3 linked regions of the Homo sapiens genome follow. The protein of the gene in region 1 interacts with the protein of each later gene in a biochemical or structural test. Each region holds a gene or a part of one and is shown on either strand. Other genes may lie near its edges.

Evidence for each region. Proteins that work in one complex are often made in the same cells at the same time.
Region 2: the proteins of SNCA (region 1) and MAPT form a complex in vitro, tested with the Homo sapiens proteins (3 studies listed by BioGRID and IntAct).
Region 3: of the proteins of SNCA (region 1) and NEDD4L, one has a biochemical effect on the other in vitro, tested with the Homo sapiens proteins (3 studies listed by BioGRID).

The regions. Positions count from the first base shown.
Region 1 is NC_000004.12:89,834,011-89,841,194, reverse strand, and holds the start of SNCA (alpha-synuclein), read left to right. Parts: upstream 1-4,033; 5' UTR 4,034-4,233; exon of another isoform or gene 4,234-4,452; intron 4,453-4,460; exon of another isoform or gene 4,461-4,794; intron 4,795-4,954; exon of another isoform or gene 4,955-5,068; intron 5,069-5,502; 5' UTR 5,503-5,527; coding exon 5,528-5,648; intron 5,649-7,184. UniProt on the Homo sapiens protein: Neuronal protein that plays several roles in synaptic activity such as regulation of synaptic vesicle trafficking and subsequent neurotransmitter release.
Region 2 is NC_000017.11:45,988,554-45,995,553, forward strand, and holds part of MAPT (microtubule-associated protein tau), read left to right. Parts: intron 1-1,324; coding exon 1,325-1,522; intron 1,523-2,906; coding exon 2,907-3,033; intron 3,034-5,370; coding exon of another isoform or gene 5,371-5,424; intron 5,425-7,000. UniProt on the Homo sapiens protein: Promotes microtubule assembly and stability, and might be involved in the establishment and maintenance of neuronal polarity.
Region 3 is NC_000018.10:58,327,226-58,334,225, forward strand, and holds part of NEDD4L (E3 ubiquitin-protein ligase NEDD4-like), read left to right. Parts: intron 1-1,769; coding exon 1,770-1,902; intron 1,903-3,512; coding exon 3,513-3,689; intron 3,690-6,592; coding exon 6,593-6,667; intron 6,668-7,000. UniProt on the Homo sapiens protein: E3 ubiquitin-protein ligase that mediates the polyubiquitination of lysine and cysteine residues on target proteins and is thereby implicated in the regulation of various signaling pathways including autophagy, innate immunity or DNA repair.

The sequences.
Region 1 (7,184 bases):
ACAATATGAAGTTGGCCATGGGGTCAAATTAGAGAATCTGAATACTATGCTTCTCCTTGATTGCTCTTCCCATTTCTTCAGAGTAACCCTATTCCCCCATCTCATGCTCACCCCCTTTCCAAAATCATACATAATGATCTCCCAACAGTATGCATTAGGCTTTCTCTACTCTACCCACTATGAAATTACACAAGAAGCCTATCGCAATCTCACTACCTCGTCTCTCTCACAGGTTTACAGAAGGTGAGAGGAAGGTGCAGATAGAGAATAAGAAGCAGGTGGCTCCAGCATCAACATTACATCACCCCTTGTGTTCACAACAAATACGGAATATTATCCAAAGATAATAAACGTTGTATTTTCTTAACTTAAACACATTAAATCAGTCCTCTCTTTAATCAATTGTTAATGGGCAGCATCTTTATTTTCATGCCATTCTACTCTGCTGTCTTTGCTATAGCACAAGTTTACCACATACCATACCTAAAAATTCAGTTGTTCTATGGGGGTAAACAAAGTCTAGGTTAAGCATATATTTCATAGAATGTTAATCTATAGCAAAATTAATGAATTAAATCCAGATAAAAGAATCCTATTATGGTCTGGTAAAATATTTATATTTCACTTAGCAAAGAGAAAACAAAACATGAATATTGTAGTTATGAACAGAATATGCATGTTAGTAATGCTTCCAAATATGTTATTACTTCATAACTTCATATTTCTTATGAGGTACAAGCCATTCAATTAGTTTAACGTTATATTCAGAGAGGCTAAAGATTTACTGAAGACCATGCTGTCCATCAATAATGAAAAGAAAAATTAAAAAAACTTTATTTTAACTTCTAGTTCCCTTCTTTGTACTTGAGCAGCTTTCCCTCCTTAAGAATACAGACCTAGAACATATGCAATATCACTATCAATATTATGTGTAATTAAAAGTTCATTGGATGTTTACTGTGTTCAAGGCATTTTAAGGAGTGACAAGAGTTAAACATATAGTTGTAATTCAAAATGACAACGAAATTAGTTTACAGTTTTCTTTTTTTGTAGGTAGTAAGAAATCATCTCCCCCTATTGAGGAATACCAATATAGAAAAGGCAAAACTTTAAATATGAATGAACTGTTTCATAATAACATAAGTTCTTCTTGATTTCCATTGTCACATCCAAATTTGAAGGCTATTTCTAACACAGCTGGGTTCTACCTTTTTCCTTCTCACTCTTTACCACACCCAATCTGTGAGGCTTCAGACACAAACTGCTAATTCAGGAGACAATTGTGCCTTCTGTAACAGTTTCTGCTAAATTGTCTCAGCTCTGCCACTTAAAATAGCTAGGTGATCTCAGCATATCACCAAAACTCTTGGAGCTCAGTTTCTCTGTCTATAAAAGTTACATAAAATGTAATTGATCTGCTTGTTATGACTAAATAACATAGTACATTAGTCCTTTGCCAAAGGACTAACAAATTACCAAATAAAAGTTTGGAATCATGTTAAACGTTTATAAGAAGTGCAACTGTCCAGAAATAATTCTCTCACATTGGTCTGTTGTAATGAGACCTAAAATATCTCATTTTATTTACCTCTTTGACTTAAAGCACTAGGTCTCAAGGAGGTCATGGTTATACTATAAATATGTCATGTGAAATAATATATTAAATAATTGTTGTAATACTCTATTGAGATACTAGTTGTAAAGAGGCACAATGGAAAACTTATACTATTAACAGTAGTAAAAAGAAACAACAAAAAGCAATAAAAAACAAAACACCCATTCATGCAACGACATGAACGAACCTCACAAATATTATACTGAGTAAAAGAAGTCAGACAAATATAAAACAAAGTTTATACTACGTGATTAGATCTTTATGACATTCTAGAATATGCACATGAAGGTACAAGGTAACTGTCTGGAATGATGAAAATGTCCTGTGTCTTCAAAATAGTGTGGGTTACACTAATGCATGGCTTTTTCAAAACTGATTTAAAGGGACACAACATCTGAGCATTTCCCTAGGTGTAAATTACACTGCAATTTTAAAGAATCATCTAATGATATTGTGGTTATTTTTAAACAGTCCTTAAATTTTGTGGATGCATACTGAATGTTTACAGCTGAAAAGATATATATAAAGCTTGAATTTGGTAAAAAAAAAAAAAAAAGAGGGAGGATTGGTAGTGATAAAGTGAGTGGACTTATGGATGAGACATGATCAGCCATGCATTGAAAAAATGTAAAAGTTGGATGATCTTCACATGAGAGTCCTTTATTCTGTCTACTTTTGCATATGTTTGAATATTTCCCATAACAAAAAGTTGAAAATAGAGTGATCACATGAGTTAATCTCCTAATTTACAAAAAAGAAAACTGGAAACAGAAGGAGAACAAAACTTGTTCAAGGTCTCAAAGCCAGACAGCAAACTAGCTCCCAAGTCCAACCTTCTTGCTCTGGTCCTAAGCAAACAAAAAATATTAATATGAGCTACTGCATTAAGGAAAGTCTGCTTTTCCAAAGGGCAGACCAATAGTTCAAGGAAGAGTTTAAATAATAAATATTTGTGATCTTACTTTCATGCTTTTCTATTTTCCACTGAACACATATGCATTATCTTCTATATGTCTTTTATGTATAATCATTTGCTTCCTGTTCCTTGTGGTTTTAAAGTTGTTTTGTATGTTTAAATTTGATTTTACTCAAATTTCAGAACCCAAATTAGCGCAAGAATCAGACAAAGCATAACTTTCTATAAATATAAAAACAATTAAAAAAAAAACATACAGCAAAAACGAGTTGTTGTTTCCCCCCTCCTCTTCCAGTGCTTAACTAATCTTCCGAATCCAGGCACAGAAAGCAAAGGCTTTCTGCTAGTGGGAGGAGCTTGCTTCTCCATTCTGGTGTGATCCAGGAACAGCTGTCTTCCAGCTCTGAAAGAGGTGAAAATGTGTTAAGCGATGCAAAAATTGTCTTGAAGTTCGCGTGTGTATGTCTGTGTGCATGTGCGTGTGGTGGGTGGGGGGAGAGAAAAGGGGGTGTCAATTCTGAGGGCAACGAGAATCAGAAGTCAGAAAGGTGAGTGGTGTGTAGCATCTCCCTTTCAGAAGGGGCTGAAGAAGAAATTGGATATGATGGTCCGGTAGGCTAAATCACGCTGGATTTGTCTCCCAGATAAAGGGAGGTCTGCAAAGTAAGTCCCATTTCTAGAGCGAAAAGCCTTAGGACCGCTTGTTTTAGACGGCTGGGGAATATTTATTCCTTGTTCCACTGATGGGAAAATCAGCGTCTGGCAGGCGCTGATTGGTGGAAAGGAAAATGGTGATAGTGGCGTGGAAAGAGGATTTGCTGAGCCTTCTCCTGCCTCCTCAACCTGTGACTCTTCCTTAGTAGTCTCCCTTTCACCCTCAGGACCCTTTCCGGCTCTTCCTAGATTAAGAGCAAACGAAAACCTTGAAGATATTTGAACTAAAGCGACCCCTAACGTTGTAACCTGTGACCGTGATTAAATTTCAGCGATGCGAGGGCAAAGCGCTCTCGGCGGTGCGGTGTGAGCCACCTCCCGGCGCTGCCTGTCTCCTCCAGCAGCTCCCCAAGGGATAGGCTCTGCCCTTGGTGGTCGACCCTCAGGCCCTCGGCTCTCCCAGGGCGACTCTGACGAGGGGTAGGGGGTGGTCCCCGGGAGGACCCAGAGGAAAGGCGGGGACAAGAAGGGAGGGGAAGGGGAAAGAGGAAGAGGCATCATCCCTAGCCCAACCGCTCCCGATCTCCACAAGAGTGCTCGTGACCCTAAACTTAACGTGAGGCGCAAAAGCGCCCCCACTTTCCCGCCTTGCGCGGCCAGGCAGGCGGCTGGAGTTGATGGCTCACCCCGCGCCCCCTGCCCCATCCCCATCCGAGATAGGGACGAGGAGCACGCTGCAGGGAAAGCAGCGAGCGCCGGGAGAGGGGCGGGCAGAAGCGCTGACAAATCAGCGGTGGGGGCGGAGAGCCGAGGAGAAGGAGAAGGAGGAGGACTAGGAGGAGGAGGACGGCGACGACCAGAAGGGGCCCAAGAGAGGGGGCGAGCGACCGAGCGCCGCGACGCGGAAGTGAGGTGCGTGCGGGCTGCAGCGCAGACCCCGGCCCGGCCCCTCCGAGAGCGTCCTGGGCGCTCCCTCACGCCTTGCCTTCAAGCCTTCTGCCTTTCCACCCTCGTGAGCGGAGAACTGGGAGTGGCCATTCGACGACAGGTTAGCGGGTTTGCCTCCCACTCCCCCAGCCTCGCGTCGCCGGCTCACAGCGGCCTCCTCTGGGGACAGTCCCCCCCGGGTGCCGCCTCCGCCCTTCCTGTGCGCTCCTTTTCCTTCTTCTTTCCTATTAAATATTATTTGGGAATTGTTTAAATTTTTTTTTTAAAAAAAGAGAGAGGCGGGGAGGAGTCGGAGTTGTGGAGAAGCAGAGGGACTCAGGTAAGTACCTGTGGATCTAAACGGGCGTCTTTGGAAATCCTGGAGAACGCCGGATGGGAGACGAATGGTCGTGGGCACCGGGAGGGGGTGGTGCTGCCATGAGGACCCGCTGGGCCAGGTCTCTGGGAGGTGAGTACTTGTCCCTTTGGGGAGCCTAAGGAAAGAGACTTGACCTGGCTTTCGTCCTGCTTCTGATATTCCCTTCTCCACAAGGGCTGAGAGATTAGGCTGCTTCTCCGGGATCCGCTTTTCCCCGGGAAACGCGAGGATGCTCCATGGAGCGTGAGCATCCAACTTTTCTCTCACATAAAATCTGTCTGCCCGCTCTCTTGGTTTTTCTCTGTAAAGTAAGCAAGCTGCGTTTGGCAAATAATGAAATGGAAGTGCAAGGAGGCCAAGTCAACAGGTGGTAACGGGTTAACAAGTGCTGGCGCGGGGTCCGCTAGGGTGGAGGCTGAGAACGCCCCCTCGGGTGGCTGGCGCGGGGTTGGAGACGGCCCGCGAGTGTGAGCGGCGCCTGCTCAGGGTAGATAGCTGAGGGCGGGGGTGGATGTTGGATGGATTAGAACCATCACACTTGGGCCTGCTGTTTGCCTGAGTTTGAACCACACCCCGAGTGAGCAGTTAGTTCTGTTGCCTACGCCTTTCCACCATCAACCTGTTAGCCTTCTTCTGGGATTCATGTTAAGGATACCCCTGACCCTAAGCCTCCAGCTTCCATGCTTCTAACTCATACTGTTACCCTTTAGACCCCGGGAATTTAAAAAAGGGGTTAATCTTTTCATGCAACTCCACTTCTGAAATGCAGTAATAACAACTCAGAGGATTCATCCTAATCCGTGGTTAGGTGGCTAGACTTTTACTAGCCAAGATGGATGGGAGATGCTAAATTTTTAATGCCAGAGCTAAAAATGTCTGCTTTGTCCAATGGTTAAATGAGTGTACACTTAAAAGAGTCTCACACTTTGGAGGGTTTCTCATGATTTTTCAGTGTTTTTTGTTTATTTTTCCCCGAAAGTTCTCATTCAAAGTGTATTTTATGTTTTCCAGTGTGGTGTAAAGGAATTCATTAGCCATGGATGTATTCATGAAAGGACTTTCAAAGGCCAAGGAGGGAGTTGTGGCTGCTGCTGAGAAAACCAAACAGGGTGTGGCAGAAGCAGCAGGAAAGACAAAAGAGGGTGTTCTCTATGTAGGTAGGTAAACCCCAAATGTCAGTTTGGTGCTTGTTCATGAGTGATGGGTTAGGATAATCAATACTCTAAATGCTGGTAGTTCTCTCTCTTGATTCATTTTTGCATCATTGCTTGTCAAAAAGGTGGACTGAGTCAGAGGTATGTGTAGGTAGGTGAATGTGAACGTGTGTATTTGAGCTAATAGTAAAAAATGCGACTGTTTGCTTTTCCAGATTTTTAATTTTGCCCTAATATTTATGACTTTTTAAAAATGAATGTTTCTGTACCTACATAATTCTATTTCAGAGAACAGTTTTAAAAACTCATAGTCTTTTAAAAAATAATCAAGAATATTCTTAAGAATCAAAATCATTGATGGATCTGTGATTTCTTTTACCATCATGAAAAATGTTTGTCAATTTTAATCCATTCTGATTTTTAAAATATGACTTTGATATGCCCCTGTGATGTGTATAAAGAGACCTATTTGTGGCCCTAAAATGGAAAGAACAGATTAGTCTTTGATAGAGTTACTTCATGTGATCATTTGGTCTCTGTGAACACTGAGGACAGAGAAAAGTGCTTGAGGGCTGCTACTAATCTCTCAGAAACATTTGTATAGTTCATCCATCAAATGACACACATACTAAAAGAATAAAGAAATTGATGCTTATTACCTACTTGTTCCTAAAGTTCCACCTTGGGGTATACACCCAAACTCTGACTCTCTTTTCTGTAACTTGAACTGTATTCAATTGAGTGTTATTTTACAAACCACTTTGAATTCCTTGGAAAAGAATAGACACACACTCTCATCCACAGGCATAGACACACACACTCAACACAGACACATTGCCCATTCTTCCTCTCTTCTTTCTCCTCTGAGCTTTTTCACATTCTCTGGTGGCAACTATAGCAGTAAGAGTCACAGGATGAACAGTCAGGTGGAGGATGACCACATTGAGTTGCCTAGCTGAAACATGTGCTCCGTCTATGTCTGCAAAGTGAAAGAAAGCTACACTATCTCTTCAACATAGATCAGTGGGGGAAATTTTATACTTGGGATGATTTATATGAATGCATCTCATCAAAGTTCACAACACATTTTTTTTTCAGTTTTTTATTTTCAGTTTTTAGAGTCAGGGCCTTGCTCTGTCGCCCAGGCTGGACTGCAGTGATGCTATCATAGCTCACTGCATCCTTGAATTCCTGGGCTCAAGTCATGCCCCCACCTCAGCCTCCTGAGTAGCCAGGATTATAGGCATGTGCCACTGCCTCATTATTTAGACTTTTCTTATGTTGACTTAATCTTCCCACAAATCTTCAATTAAATTACTTTTTTTCTACCTTAAAACATATTTTCAGAAAGTCATTGAAATAGGGTGTTACAAGAGGAAAAAATTGATGAGTTAATTTTAAATATTTTATGAAGTGTGAATTATACCTTTTTAGATGGAATTTGGAATACTGAATCAGTGACATGCAGTTTATCAATATCTTTCCGTTTGTCCTCAGATTTCCAAGTTCTGCAAGCACAAGTTTCTTTGACTTAGTTAC
Region 2 (7,000 bases), on another chromosome or scaffold:
GGCTGCTTCCTCTTGTGGAATGGGTTCAAAAGTAAGCAGTGTTGTTTACACTGACAAACTGAAAAAAAAAGAAAAAGAGATAACATTGGAGGCTTGGCACAGTGGCTCATGCCTGTAATCCCAGCACTTTGGGAGGCTAAGGTGGGAGGATGTCCCCAGCCCAAGAGTTCTAGACCAGCCTGGGCAACATAGCAAGACCCCATCTCAAAAAAAAAATTTAATTGGCCAGGCAGAGGTGGGAGGATCACTTGAACCCAAAGGGTGGAGGCTGCAGTGAGCCGTGATGGCACCACTGCACTCCAGCCAGGGCAACAGAGGGAGACCCTGTCTCTAAAACAAACAAACAAACAAACAAACAAAAGAGTTAACATTGGCCAGATTAGGATTCACCAGATAGTGTTAATATTAGTTTGATTTGAGACTTTAATCAGAAAGCACATGTGTGGTGGGGGTGGGTGTAACCTAAGTCAGGTAGAATCTTTCCAACTTGGGGGGGGCACACTCCTGATTGTAGCCATATGAGTCTGTCAGTGTGGTGGAAGAGGCCATGGGTTAATGGGCAGGTAAAAAAGCACCTTGCCTGGAATTGAGTAGAAAGTAAGGCCCTTCAGACCCCGTGACACACTTGGGGACATTTTCTTGAGTAACATCCTAAGATTCATGTACCTTGATGATCTCCATCAACTTACTCATGTGAAGCACCTTTAAACCAGTCGTCTCCAAATTCAGGGGCACAGTAACATCCAACAGGCTGGAGAAAGAACGTACTAGAACTTCCATTCCTTTTTCATGTCCTCTTCTAAAAGCTTTGTCAGGGCCAGGCGCGGTGGCTCACGCCTGTAATCCCAGCACTTTGGGAGGCCGAGACGGGTGGATCACGAGGTCAGGAGATCGAGACCATCCTGGCTAACACAGTGAAACCCCATCTCTACTAAAAATACAAAAAAACGAGCCGGGCGTGGTGGTGGGCGCCTGTAGTCCCAGCTACTCGGGAGGCTGAGGCAGGAGAATGGCGTGAACCCAGGAGGCAGAGCTTGCAGTGAGCCGAGATTGCACCACTGCAGTCCAGCCTGGGCGACAGAGCGAGACTCCGTCTCAAAAAAGAAAAAGAAAAAGAAAAAGAACTGTGATTGGGGAGGACGGTCACTTTCCTGTTCTTACTGATCAGAAGGGATATTAAGGGTACCTGATTCAAACAGCCTGGAGATCACTGCTTTCAACCATTACCTGCCTTATTTATTTTTAGTTACTGTCCTTTTTTCAGTTTGTTTCCCTCCTCCATGTGCTGACTTTTATTTTGATTTTATTTATGTTTATGTTTAAGACATCCACACGTTCCTCTGCTAAAACCTTGAAAAATAGGCCTTGCCTTAGCCCCAAACACCCCACTCCTGGTAGCTCAGACCCTCTGATCCAACCCTCCAGCCCTGCTGTGTGCCCAGAGCCACCTTCCTCTCCTAAATACGTCTCTTCTGTCACTTCCCGAACTGGCAGTTCTGGAGCAAAGGAGATGAAACTCAAGGTAAGGAAACCACCTTTGAAAAGAACCAGGCTGCTCTGCTGTGGTTTGCAAATGTGGGGTTTGTTTATTTGTTTTTTAGCCTCAAAGACCTTTCTTCAAATGAGTTCTGGCATAGAAGCACCGTGTAAAATAGTTAGAATTCTGGGCAAAGGGGAAAAGAGAGCTGGGGGCCATCCCTCTCAGCACCCCACAGGCTCTCATAGCAGCAGCTCCTAAGACACCTGGTGGGACCTTGGTTTCGAAATCGCTACTCTAAGGCTGGGCACGGTGGCTCACACCTGTAATCCCAGCTCTTTAGGAGGCCGAGGAGGGTGGATCACCTGAGATCAGGAGTTCGAGACCAGCCTGGCTAACATGGCAAAACCCTGTCTCTACTAAAAATACAAAAATTAGCCGGGCGTGGTGGTATGCGTGGTGGTAATCGCAGCTACTCGGGAGGCTGAGGCACAAGGATTGCTTGAACCCCAGAGGCAGAGGTTGTAGTTAGCTCCAGCTTGGGCGACAGAGCAAGACCCTGTCGCAAAAATTGTTTAAAAAACAAACCCAAAATTGCTACTCTCATTGGGTTCCTTTGCCCATTCCTGATTTTGGCAAGAGAAATGCTTCCAGATTGCCCTGATCTGGGTAGGACAGCATCACGCCATAGCAACACTGCCCCGTGAGCTCACTGCCCCCTCAACTAGCTTGTGGTCCTTGGTTAATGTCAGTTTCTTTTTTGAGTTTGTGTTATGTCTAAGGGTCATCTGCTGGGTAACGGAACCCAGGGACTGCCCTAGTCCCTAGACTGTGCCATGCCCGACTCTGCCAGCTTTGTCAGTGATGCTGGTGCTCGCCTCCTCGGGTGCTCGCCTGGTCTGAGCACACCCAAGGAGTTCTTGAGGCCTTAGGGTTGTTTGCGAGAGAATGAAAGAACACGACCTAGCTCTCTTTAGCATCCTTGGTCAGGTTCAACACTGCCCCCAGGGGCCTCTGGTGGAGCCAACCACCATCAGCCAAATAAATCCATAATTAGAGTCAGAAAATGGATGTCTGCATATGTGTAGTGCACTAATGTCCTGCCGATGATTGACATGGAGTGGAGAGTGACCTGATCATTGCTGTGAGCTCTGCTGGCCTTGGCACAACTCATGCTGATAACTAATGCACACAGTTCCTCTGGGAGGAAATGTCCTCAGGGAACTTGGAGTTTGGGTGGGGATGTGGGTTTGTGTGCCCAGCAAGCCCTTGTGGTTGTAGCAGACACTAGTGGCATCTAGGAGGCAAAGGGTCACCCCAGTCTTAGCCACGTTTTGAGTCAAGGTGGCGGAGTGGGGCTGGTGTTGACTCTTGGTGGCAGTAACTTTTCCCAATGGTGAAAAACCCCTCTATCATGTTTCATTTACAGGGGGCTGATGGTAAAACGAAGATCGCCACACCGCGGGGAGCAGCCCCTCCAGGCCAGAAGGGCCAGGCCAACGCCACCAGGATTCCAGCAAAAACCCCGCCCGCTCCAAAGACACCACCCAGCTCTGGTAAGAAGAACGTTCTCTTGAATCTTAGAGGAAGCTGAAGCTCTCAGAGGTACAGCCTTCATTTTAGGAGGCCTTAGGCCACTGAGAATGAATAACCCCTGGCAGCTGGTCAGCAGCTTGCAGTTTACTAAGCACTGGAGTCTTCATTGCCTTCTCAGTCCTTTTGATTTCTGAGGCAAATGTTGAATCCCTACCTTTTTTTTTTTTTTTCTTTTGAGACAGAGTTTCGCTTTTGTTATCCAGGCCGGAGTGCAGTGGTGTGATCTCAGCTCACTGCATCCTCCACCTCCCAGGTTCAAGCGATTCTCCTACCTCAGCCTCCCTAGTAGCTGGGATTACAGGCACCTGCCACTATGCCCGGCTAATTTTTTGTATTTTTAGTAGAGACAGGGTTTCACCATGTTGGCCAGGCTGGTCTCGAACGCCTGACCTCAGGTGATCCACCTGCCTCGGCCTCCCAAAGTGCTGGGATTACAGGCATGAGCCACCACTCCCAGCCTGAATCCTCACTTTTTATCAATGAAGAAATTGAGGCTGATTCTGCAGCATGATAAAAAAAAATACAGAAAAAGGAAAAAAAAGAAAGAAATCGAGCCTCTGAGAGTTTGCTTGACTGAGTCTAACCAGCTCATTTTAAACCCGAGGAAAATGCAGTCACATGACTACTAAGTGGCAGCTCTCGGAGCCTCTCTGGCCCCAAGTCCAGGGTTCCATAGAGGCAGCCCCAGCATGGCATGTTTTCAGTCCCCAAATGAGACTCTGGAGACAAATGTCTCTGGAGACAGAGCAGCAGCCTGGATAAGTCACAATGGGTGACGTCACTCAGGGCTCAACCCCTGGGCAGCTTAACTTGCTAGGGACGTTAGGAGTCTGCTGCAAAACCTGAGGGTCTTAGCTGAGCAGTCACAGGCTGGGCCCGTTGCCCTGGGCTCCTGTGAGTAAAACCCAGTCAATTTTGAGTACCCAGTAAGGCATCCATTGAGTTATTTTGCAGCCAGGAGTGCTATTAAGAACAGTCGCGGCTGGGCGTGGTGGCTCATGCCTGTAATCCCAGCACTTTGGGAGGCCAAGGTGGGCGGATCACCTGAGGTCAGGAGTTCGAGACCAGCTTGGCCAACATGGCAAAACCCCGTCTCTAATAAAAATACAAAATAATTAGCTGGGCGTGGTGGCGGGCGCCTGTAATCCCAGCTTCTCAGGAGGGTGAGGAAGGAGAATCACTTGAACCCAGGAGGCAGAGGTTGCAGTGAGCTGAGATCGCACCATTGCACTCCAGCCTGGATGACAAAAGTGAGATTCCTTCTCAAAAAAAAAAAAAAAAAAACAGTCGTCCTCTTTGGGGATTAGGGACAGCCTGCCTGCCTGCCCGAGCACTTCTCTCTTCCATTGCCCCAGTGAAGTATTCCAGGCCCCTGGGTTTAGACTCTGCACCATGTAGGGGTGTCTGACCTGCACTTGCTCCTTGGTGGCACGGGCAGCCTATGGCACTTGCTGCGGGCTGTGACCAAAGCCTGGCCTGGATCTTGGATCTTGGTGACTCTGCTTCTCCCTGGCCTGAGGGAGCTGCCCAGAGCCTGCCCACCACCTGCTGCGTGTCTTTGCGGTGGCATTTCTCGCACACATGCCGTGCAGTGGCACCCCCAAGGATGGCCATTCACTAAGGCCCATTGTTTTTGTCTTTTCGCTTCGTGTTTTCTGGCCTGGTGTTTTTCTCATATACATGTGATCCAGGGATAATTCCCAGAATTTTGACAGGATTTTAAGTAGCGTTTGGATCCTGCTGTTTTTTTTTCACTTAACATCGGGCCAGTTGACTCACACTCTGTTTTTTGTTGTTGTTTTTTTGAGACGGAGTCTCACTGTGTCACCCAGGCTGAAGTGCAGTGGCACAATCTTGGCATACTGCAACCTCTGCTTCCCAAATTCAAGCAGTTTTCCTGCCTCAGCCTCCTGAGTAGCTGGGACTACAGGCACAGGCCACCACGCCCTGCTAATTTTTGTATTTTTAGTAAAGACAGGGTTTCACCATTTTGGCCAGCCTAGTCTCGAACTCCTGACCTCAAGTGATCCGCCCACCTCGGCCTCCCAAAGTGCTGGGATTACAGGGGACTCACACTTTGTAACAACCTGAAACAACGTGATGCATTTCCCTTTGGGTCTTACCTGCTCTTCGGTGGCTGCCTGCAGGTGGAGAGACCCTCCCCCTTGGGCCCCTCGACCTTGTTTCAGAATGGGGCCCCTGCTGGGCCAGCTGTGGGTGCCTGCCACGTGAAGGACTCATTAAGGCCCTGTTTAAGCCTGATGATAATAAGGCTTTCGTGGATTTTTCTCTTTAAGCGACTAAGCAAGTCCAGAGAAGACCACCCCCTGCAGGGCCCAGATCTGAGAGAGGTACTCGGGAGCCTACTTCGCTGGGAGCAGCCTCCCTTTGCGTGTGTGGCCATTCACTGGCTTGTGTTTCTAGAGCCGGGAGGACCCTTTTCTGCAATGCAGGGTTCACACAGGGTTCGCAGCCTGAAGATGGAGCAGTCCGAATTCTCTTCCCTGTGCAGTTTGCGCAGCTGTGTTTGTCTGATGGGCTTTCTAATCCTGTGTGCTCTCCTTGACTTCAGGGACAATGGCATTACAGGCATGAGCCACCATGCCTGGCTGTCTCCCTATGTTTCAGATGAAGACATAGGCTTAAGGAGGTCAGGTGACTTGCCCACGACCACTCTGTAAATAAGAGGCATGAAAAGTATTTGGAGCCACCACCACCAAGCCCACTGGTCACCCTGGGTCTCTGAAGTCAGGGAGGCAGGAGGATGGGAGGTCTGAGGAGGCAGAGAGGCTGAGCCTGGAGGCCCTGGAGGCCGAGGCCCCATCTGTTGTTTCCTTATGTGGAAAATAAGAGGCTTCGTTTGTCCTATTGCCACAGAGCGTACTACTTCAGGAACATCCAAGACATGGAAATCCGCAGGGCACGGTGGCTCACGTCTATAATCCCGGCACTTTGGGAGGTTGAGGTGGGAGAATCGCTTGAGGCCAGAAGTTCAAGACCAGCCTGAGCAACATAGTCAGACCCCGTCTCTATAAAAAACATTATTTTTAAAAAAGACATGGAAGTCAAATTCTAAAAACTGGTGCTGGCTGGGTGCGGTGGCTCATGCCTATAATCCCAGCACTTTGGGAGGCCGAGGCGGGTGGATCACCTGAGGTCAGGAGTTCAAGACCAGCCTGGCCAACATGGTAAAACCTCTACTAAAGAAATCTTTACTGAAAATACAAAAATCCAGTCTCTACTAAAATAAGTCTCTACTAAAAATACAAAAATTAGCCAGGCGTGGTGCTGCACACCTGTAATATCAGCTACTCGGGAGGCTGAGGCAGGAGACTCGCTTGATCCCATGCAGCGGAGGTTGCAGTGAGCCGAGATCACGCCATTGCACTCCAGCCTGGGCATCAGAATAAGACTCCGTCTCAAAAAAAAAACCACAAAAAAACAAAACAACAACAAAAGAAAACTAGTGCTTATTCGTCACTGGCCAAGCTGCCCATTGGCTACATGGGTGCTTCAAAGAGCTGCCCTTCTCCAGGTCTGGCCAGCAGGTATGTGTTACAGCAAATGCCTGGGGCAGCGGCAGGGGCATTGCTGCGGGAAGCTTCTGGACTTGCAGGAAAGCTAAGTTCTCAGACTGCAGGGGAGCTAAGCACACCTCGGCACAGGGTGAGGCCTGCGGTTCTCAGACTTCAGTCTTTGTGGAGCTTGAGAAAAATGAGGCTTTGCAGGTCCCACCCCTAGAGATTCTGCTCTATCCACTCTTGAAGGGGATCGAGAAATTTGCATTTTGCAACTCCCACTTTCCTCCTTGAAAGCTCCGGAGATTCTGACGCAGGGTTCCGTGGGCCACACTTTGGAAAATACAGACCCATGAGATAGAATACCAGACTGTTGAAGTGTAACGGGGGCCTGGGAAGTGCAGTAACA
Region 3 (7,000 bases), on another chromosome or scaffold:
TAGCTGGGATTACAGGCGCCCGCCGCCATGCCCAGCTAATGTTTGTATTTTTGTGAAGATGGGGTTTCACTGGCTTGGTCAAGCTGGTTTCAAACTCCTGACCTCAGGTGATCCGCCCACCTCAGCCTCCCAAAGTGCTAGGATTACAGGTATGACCCACCACGCCCGGCTGAAAAATGCAGTTCTTAATCCAAGTTCGGGCTCACATGTAGTTTTGGGAGAAGGCAGAGGCATAACTGCCCCATCAAGGAGGCAGCAATGCCAAAGGGAGAGGCTGAGCCAGGAAGGACACAGCAGAACTTGGCAGAACCTGAGGAGCGCCTCCTTCCAATGGGCATAACTTCTAGAAGGCAAGAGGAAAGTTAGTTAAGGAAAAAGAGTTTCCACCACAACCTCTGCTAGCAGGCCCTTTATTGGGATACAGTATAAGTTCATTTCAGAATGTGTGAGAAAACTTTAAAATTTGTGTTTTAGAAAGAGTCTATAATGAGTGTTCTTGATAAGTACTATATTTCAGTTAGTCTGAAATGACGATTTCAACTTTTGAGATACTGACTTGTGACATAATTTTTGTTAATGGGATATGTTATCTTATTGAAAGTATCTGTGAGAGTTTTCCCTGAAAAAATTTTTGGCATTTAAACTTGTACACTAAAAGCCTCTGACTAGTATTTCCCCCAAAGTATGATTGCCTATAATTTACTGCAAAAAAAAAAGTTTTCTTTTTTCTTTTTTTTTTTGTTTTGTTTTGTTTTGAGATGGAGTCTCACTCTGCTGCCCTGGCTAGAGTACAGTGACATGATCTCTCAGCTCACTGCAACCTCTGCCTCCTGGGCTCAAGTGATTCTCCTGCCTCAGCCTCCTGAGTAGCTGGGACTACAGGCACGCATCACCACACTCGGCTAATTTTTGTGTTTTTAGTAGAGGCGGGGTTTTGCCATGTTGGCCAGGTACGTCTTGAGCTCCTGACCTCAAGTGATCCGCCCGCCTTGGCCTCCCAAAGTGCTGGGATTACAGGCATGAGCCACCATGCCCAGCCCAAAAAAGTCTTCCAAATTGAATCAAAACTTTTAGATCCTGAATTGAGAACATCACATGACAAAAAATAGGGTATGATGTTTTGGTGTTCTTCAGACCCCGGCTGACTTGAGAGGTTATCTCCTGATGTTATTAGGATTTTTAAAGTAGGGTAAAGGAGGTAAATGCAGTGTCACGATTTTGAGATTCTGTTAAAATGAGCTAGAAAGCAGCTGAAAAAAATTCATGTTGGATCAGGTGTACTTTCCTCCAGATGACAGCTTTGAATTTGTCCCTTTTGTAGTCTTTGGTCAAATTGCTGGTGACCAGAAGTAGCTGCCTTGTCATTGCTGGACTTCTAGAAGGATTGGGACTGCCCAGCTGCTGTGTGAACTTGCCTGTCACCTCTGCTTCCAGAGGTCTGACTTGTCACTGTGGCAAATGGGCAGAGGACTTTGATTTCTGTTTTTTATTAAACACTGAGGTATATTTTGAAATGTATGCCTGAAAGATGCTCAAAATGGTGTGACTAATGCATTTTAAAACTGCATTTATTTGATTGAAATGAACCTTAACCTATACTTTAGCCGTAATATGGTGGGAGAATTCTCACATTGGATGACCAGCTAGTTGTCAGTGTTTGACGCTGACACTTTAGTGGCCATCTGGCCCTCCGTGAGCATTGAACTGTCATGAAGGGCCCGATCTCAACCACTTCTCTTCTTCTCTTTCCCCCTTTCCTGCATGCTCAGGGACGTGTCCTCGGAGTCGGACAATAACATCAGACAGATCAACCAGGAGGCAGCACACCGGCGCTTCCGCTCCCGCAGGCACATCAGCGAAGACTTGGAGCCCGAGCCCTCGGAGGGCGGGGATGTCCCCGAGGTACGATGTCCCCAGAATGGTGCAAAGCCCGGCAGCTCCTTCTTCCCATGTTCTCCAGCTTGATTTTATATCATAATTTCTTCTGTCAGTAAACATTGTTGAGAATGTAAAGATTACAGTGACGCAGGGAATTAATTACCATCTGAATATTAATTTGAAAGTGCCTATAAAAGCCGTATTTGACAAGTATAGGTGGCTCTATATTATAGAAATGGGAATAACATTATTTTTATTTTTATTTTTTTTGAAGACAGTGTCTTGCTCTGTCGCCCAGGCTAGAGTGCAGTGGTGCAGTCTTGGCTCACTGCAACCTCCGCCTCCTGGGTTCGAGCAATTCTCCTGCCTCAGCCTCCTGAGTAGCTGGGATTACAGGCACGCATCACCACACCCGGCCAGTTTTTGTATTTTTAGTAGAAATGGGGTTTCACCATGTTGGCTAGGATGGTCTCAATCTCCTGACCTCGAGATCCGCCTGCTGCCTCAGCCTCCTAAAGTGCTGGGGTTATAGGTGCATGCCATCACAATGGCTAATTTTTTTTTTTTTTTTTTTTCCTAGTAGAGACGGGTTTCACCATGTTGGCCAGGCTGGTCTTGAACTCTTGACCTCATGATCCACCTGCCTTGGCCTCCCAAAGTGCTTAGATTACAGGCGTGAGCCACTGTGTCCAGCCCACATTATTTTTCAGTATGAAAATCTTAAGATATTTTTAGTTTGTAATTTATTTTTCACAGGGGTCTAACCATGTCTCATTAAATGACAGCTTGTTTTTATCATAGTTGAGCTGTTGAATGAGCCCTGTAACTTGTTTGGGTATCATATGCATATTTTTATTGAGTCGCTTTGACACTTGGAAGAGATTTATTACCATGAAAATATAAATTTAGGTGAACAGAAATGTGTAATTTTCCCTTTAAATAGTTATGGTATGTTACTTAAAACGTTATGAATTAAACAACAAATTAGCCATAATCTTCCATGCTATCTTACCAGCTCTGTTTATGTACTAAAAATCCATTCTTCTTAGACATTGTGTTAGGAAGATCATTTAGAATGCGGCGATTCAACTTGGAAAAGCAAAAGTAATGATTCCATAACACATTCACTCTAAGTTATTTTATACCATTGTTTAATTACAGCGTATAGCTTCTATGCTGCTCCCACGGTGAATCCTCAGTGGTTAAAAGTAAAAGAAAATCCATGACAATTGTTTATAAACTCCAGAGAAGTGTGTGTGTGTGTTTGTTTTTTTGCCCACACATATAGTAACAAGTGCTGGAAATCAGTCACTGTTCAGAGAGGCATTGTTATAAAGTGGTTAAGAGCACAGCCTCTGTCTGGAACCAGGCCTCTTTGATTCACATCATGGCCCTACCACTTGCTAGATGTTACCTTGGGCAGGTTATTTTCTGTGCCTCAGTTTCCTCATCTGTTAATTGGGGGAGTTATCTTCCTCGTGATTATTGTGAAGGTTGTGTGCCTCATGAGAGGCACTTAGTAGGTGTTAATTATAGTTATCACCGGGGCTATTGTTGTTACATGGTTTCATTGGGGAGCTGGGTGGATCCCTACTTCTTTCTAGTGTTTACCCCAGTGTCTCCTTCTCTGAAAGCCTTGGGAGACCATTTCAGAGGAAGTGAATATCGCTGGAGACTCTCTCGGTCTGGCTCTGCCCCCACCACCGGCCTCCCCAGGATCTCGGACCAGCCCTCAGGAGCTGTCAGAGGAACTAAGCAGAAGGCTTCAGATCACTCCAGACTCCAATGGGGAACAGTTCAGCTCTTTGATTGTAAGTAGTGGCCTTGTTTGAAAGAAAAGCTGAGCAATGTTTTATTGTTTTTTGTTGCTTAAGGAGAATCTCTTACGTAAATAGTGACCAAGGGTCTTCCAGCTCCCAGCTAACTCTGACATTTTCCAAAGTTCCTCCTTCCCTAGGAGAAGCAGGACTGTACTAAAATTAGCCCAAGCAGGTGAGAATCTTTCTTGATTTGGAAGGCAGCTTTGCTCACCCTTATACCACTAACACTTTCTTGGTTTATAAAGAACTCAAAGAAGTAAAACTCCATGATGTCTGTAATTATTAGCTTTAACCTTGTAGAATTCCTTTCCCAGCCAAAAGGCTCATGAAAATAGTACCTTTATCACAAAGGTAGTATTTCACAGTAACAATTAAAAGCCATCAGGCCTAATCAGTCCTCTTAAGTCATATTCTGCAGGATTTATCATTCTCATTTCGCTGATAAGGGCACAATGCTTAAGTGGCTCATCCAAGACAAGGTTTGAGTGGGAGATAGAAGACGTCTCCTAAGTCCCAGAGTATGAACCCTTGAGAAATGTTGTGAAATTGTGACACTGTCATCAAGGTAGCATTTTAACTTGGGCTCTCAACCATCAGAAACATACTTTCTAGAAGCTTCAGATGGGCCCAATGCCTGAGCCCAATGGAATCAGTCACAAAGACTTCCATGTTTGACAATACAAAACTGTGCAGAAATAACCCATAGAAAATCCCTGCTTGTGCATAGAATTAAGAGCAAATGAAGTCTCAGTGTTTCTCAAGAAACTGAACTTAAAAATGTACAATAGTAAATGATGATAGTCACTCCACTGAAAATGGCATCCTAAAAAAAAATAGTCATTACTATGACCATAACAAACATAAATGATAGCACTGCATACAATGTAAAAGCAAGTAAGTACTCACAAAATTGTTACTTTTTGGTTATGGTGTTTTTATTTTAAAAGACAGTATACGCCTCTATTACATGAGTTGCATTTATCATTCAGTTAATGTGATTTCACTTTGAAATTCTGTGACTTTTTCAAAAAGAGATGTGTCGCCAAGATGAAAATGTAGTACTAAATGGACAGGATAAAAGAAATTGCATATATATGGGATATTTGAACTGATAAAACTGTTGTTATAGAAACAACATAAACAATGAAGCCTTGTATTTAAAACCTATAAAAGCAAGGAGGTACCACAGAATCCATGGCAGTAACACACCTTTAGTAAACCAAGTAAACACTGTAATTTTTTTCAGCAATAATCATAAGTTAGCAATTCTAATTATTTAAATGAGGAGCTCCTGAATTTAATTATTCTAGATCTGTGAAATATCATTAAGACCCAAATACAATGTTGTATTATTTCACATCGTGTTCACTGTTAAATGAGAGTCAAATCGGATATTTGCTCATTGGGATTACCCTGTATTCAAGGGGAAGAACATGAGCTTTGGCTGGGCACGGTGGCTAATGCTTATAATCCCAGCACTTTGAGAGGCTGAAGCAGGCGGATCACCTGAGGTCAGGAGTTCAAGACCAGCCTGGCCAACATGGTGAAACCCCGTCTCTACTAAAAATGCAAAACTTAGCCGGGTGTGGTGGGGTGCACCTGTAGTTCCAGTTACTCAGGAGGCCAAGGCCCAAAAATTTCTTGAACCCAGGAGGCAGAGGTTGCAGTGAGCCACGATTGCGCCACTGCACTCCAGCCTGAGCAACAGAGTGACACTTTTATTAAAGACTGATTCTTTCACAGTAACCAATGTGGGAAGATGTGAATTGTCCCCCATCCCTACCACAGAGTCTTCTTGTACCATTTACTTATCACAAAATATTAAAAATGAGTAAATACTAGAAACTGATACTATGGATGAACTTGCCGATAAGGAGACTCTGGCTTCTGTGTGTGACCTGCTGCTAATCTTCATTCATATCAATTAGGCTTCATTTAACCACATAGACTAATACAAACAAGTTAGAGGAATATTAAGACACTACACAGTAGATCTTTTTTTTTAGCTTGATCTCACTATTTTTAATCATTCCTGTCTTTACTACTTGAAGTCCACTTAGAAGCTAAAATTGGCTGAGCATGGAGGCTCACACCTGTAATCCCAGTACTTTGGGAGGCCGAGGTGGGTGAATCATCTGAGGTCAGGAGGTCGAGACCAGCCTGACCAATATGGTGAAACCCCATCTCTACTAAAAATACAAAAAATTAGCCAAGTGTGGTGGGGGGGGCTTGTAGTCCCAGCTACTCAGGAGGCTGAGACAGGAGAATCACTGGAACCTGGGAGGCAGAGGTTGCAGTGAACTGAGATCATGCCACTGCACTCCAGCCTGAGCAATAGAACAAGACTCTATATTTAAAAAAAAAAAAAAAAAGCAGCTAAAATTATAAATACCAGATCTTTCAGAAGTAGGCCAAGATGATGTCTGAGCTCCTCTGAATATAGGATGCAACTGACTCTTTTTCAATTGTAGTAATCAATAAATGTTGGGTAGCCACATATCACTATTTCTTCCGTCTATTCACATCACATTAAAATTTACCCTGAGGGTGCATCTTAGAGCAAACTACAAGACTGCTAGCTTCTTTCTGTTTGTAAAGCAGCATTAGAGTGTTGCAGAGTCCTGTTGAGTCTCCTTTCTGAAAGTTTTGGTCTCCTCTTACTTTTGCCACTAATTCTAAGGACCAATCAAAATTCCAGTCTGCTTAACTGAAAATTAAAGTGAAAGATAACTTTTTCAAGGATGACTGTCCTTGCTCTGAAAAGATGTTTCATTTAATTACCTTCTAATATCGAAGAGCGGTGAATATGGTTGAGTGATATGTTTGTTAAACCAATGAAAGTTGCTTTTAAGAATATATTTCTTGATGCTTCCTGTCTTTTCCTCTCCTTCCAGCAAAGAGAACCCTCCTCAAGGTTGAGGTCATGCAGTGTCACCGACGCAGTTGCAGAACAGGGCCATCTACCACCGGTAACCCATGCTAATTTCCAGTCATCAGTTGACTTTTTGGGCTTTCATTTACAATCATCTGGGCTGCTGCAAAAAGAGTTTTTCCTGTGTAAATTTATTTACAATATAAATGAGATGTTTTTAAATTTCCTGGCCAATTGCCCTAGGAAAGTGGATTTCCAATACAGAGAATTGTTACTGCCACCCATCTCTAAAATGCTGGAACCTCCATTGCTTTAGTTTTTCACCCAAATTTATACCAATTTTGATTTGCTCACTTAAACCTCTTGGTACATTAGTTAGTAATTCCTTTTACCTTATTGAGTTACTATAGTTATGCTCCAGTGATCTGTA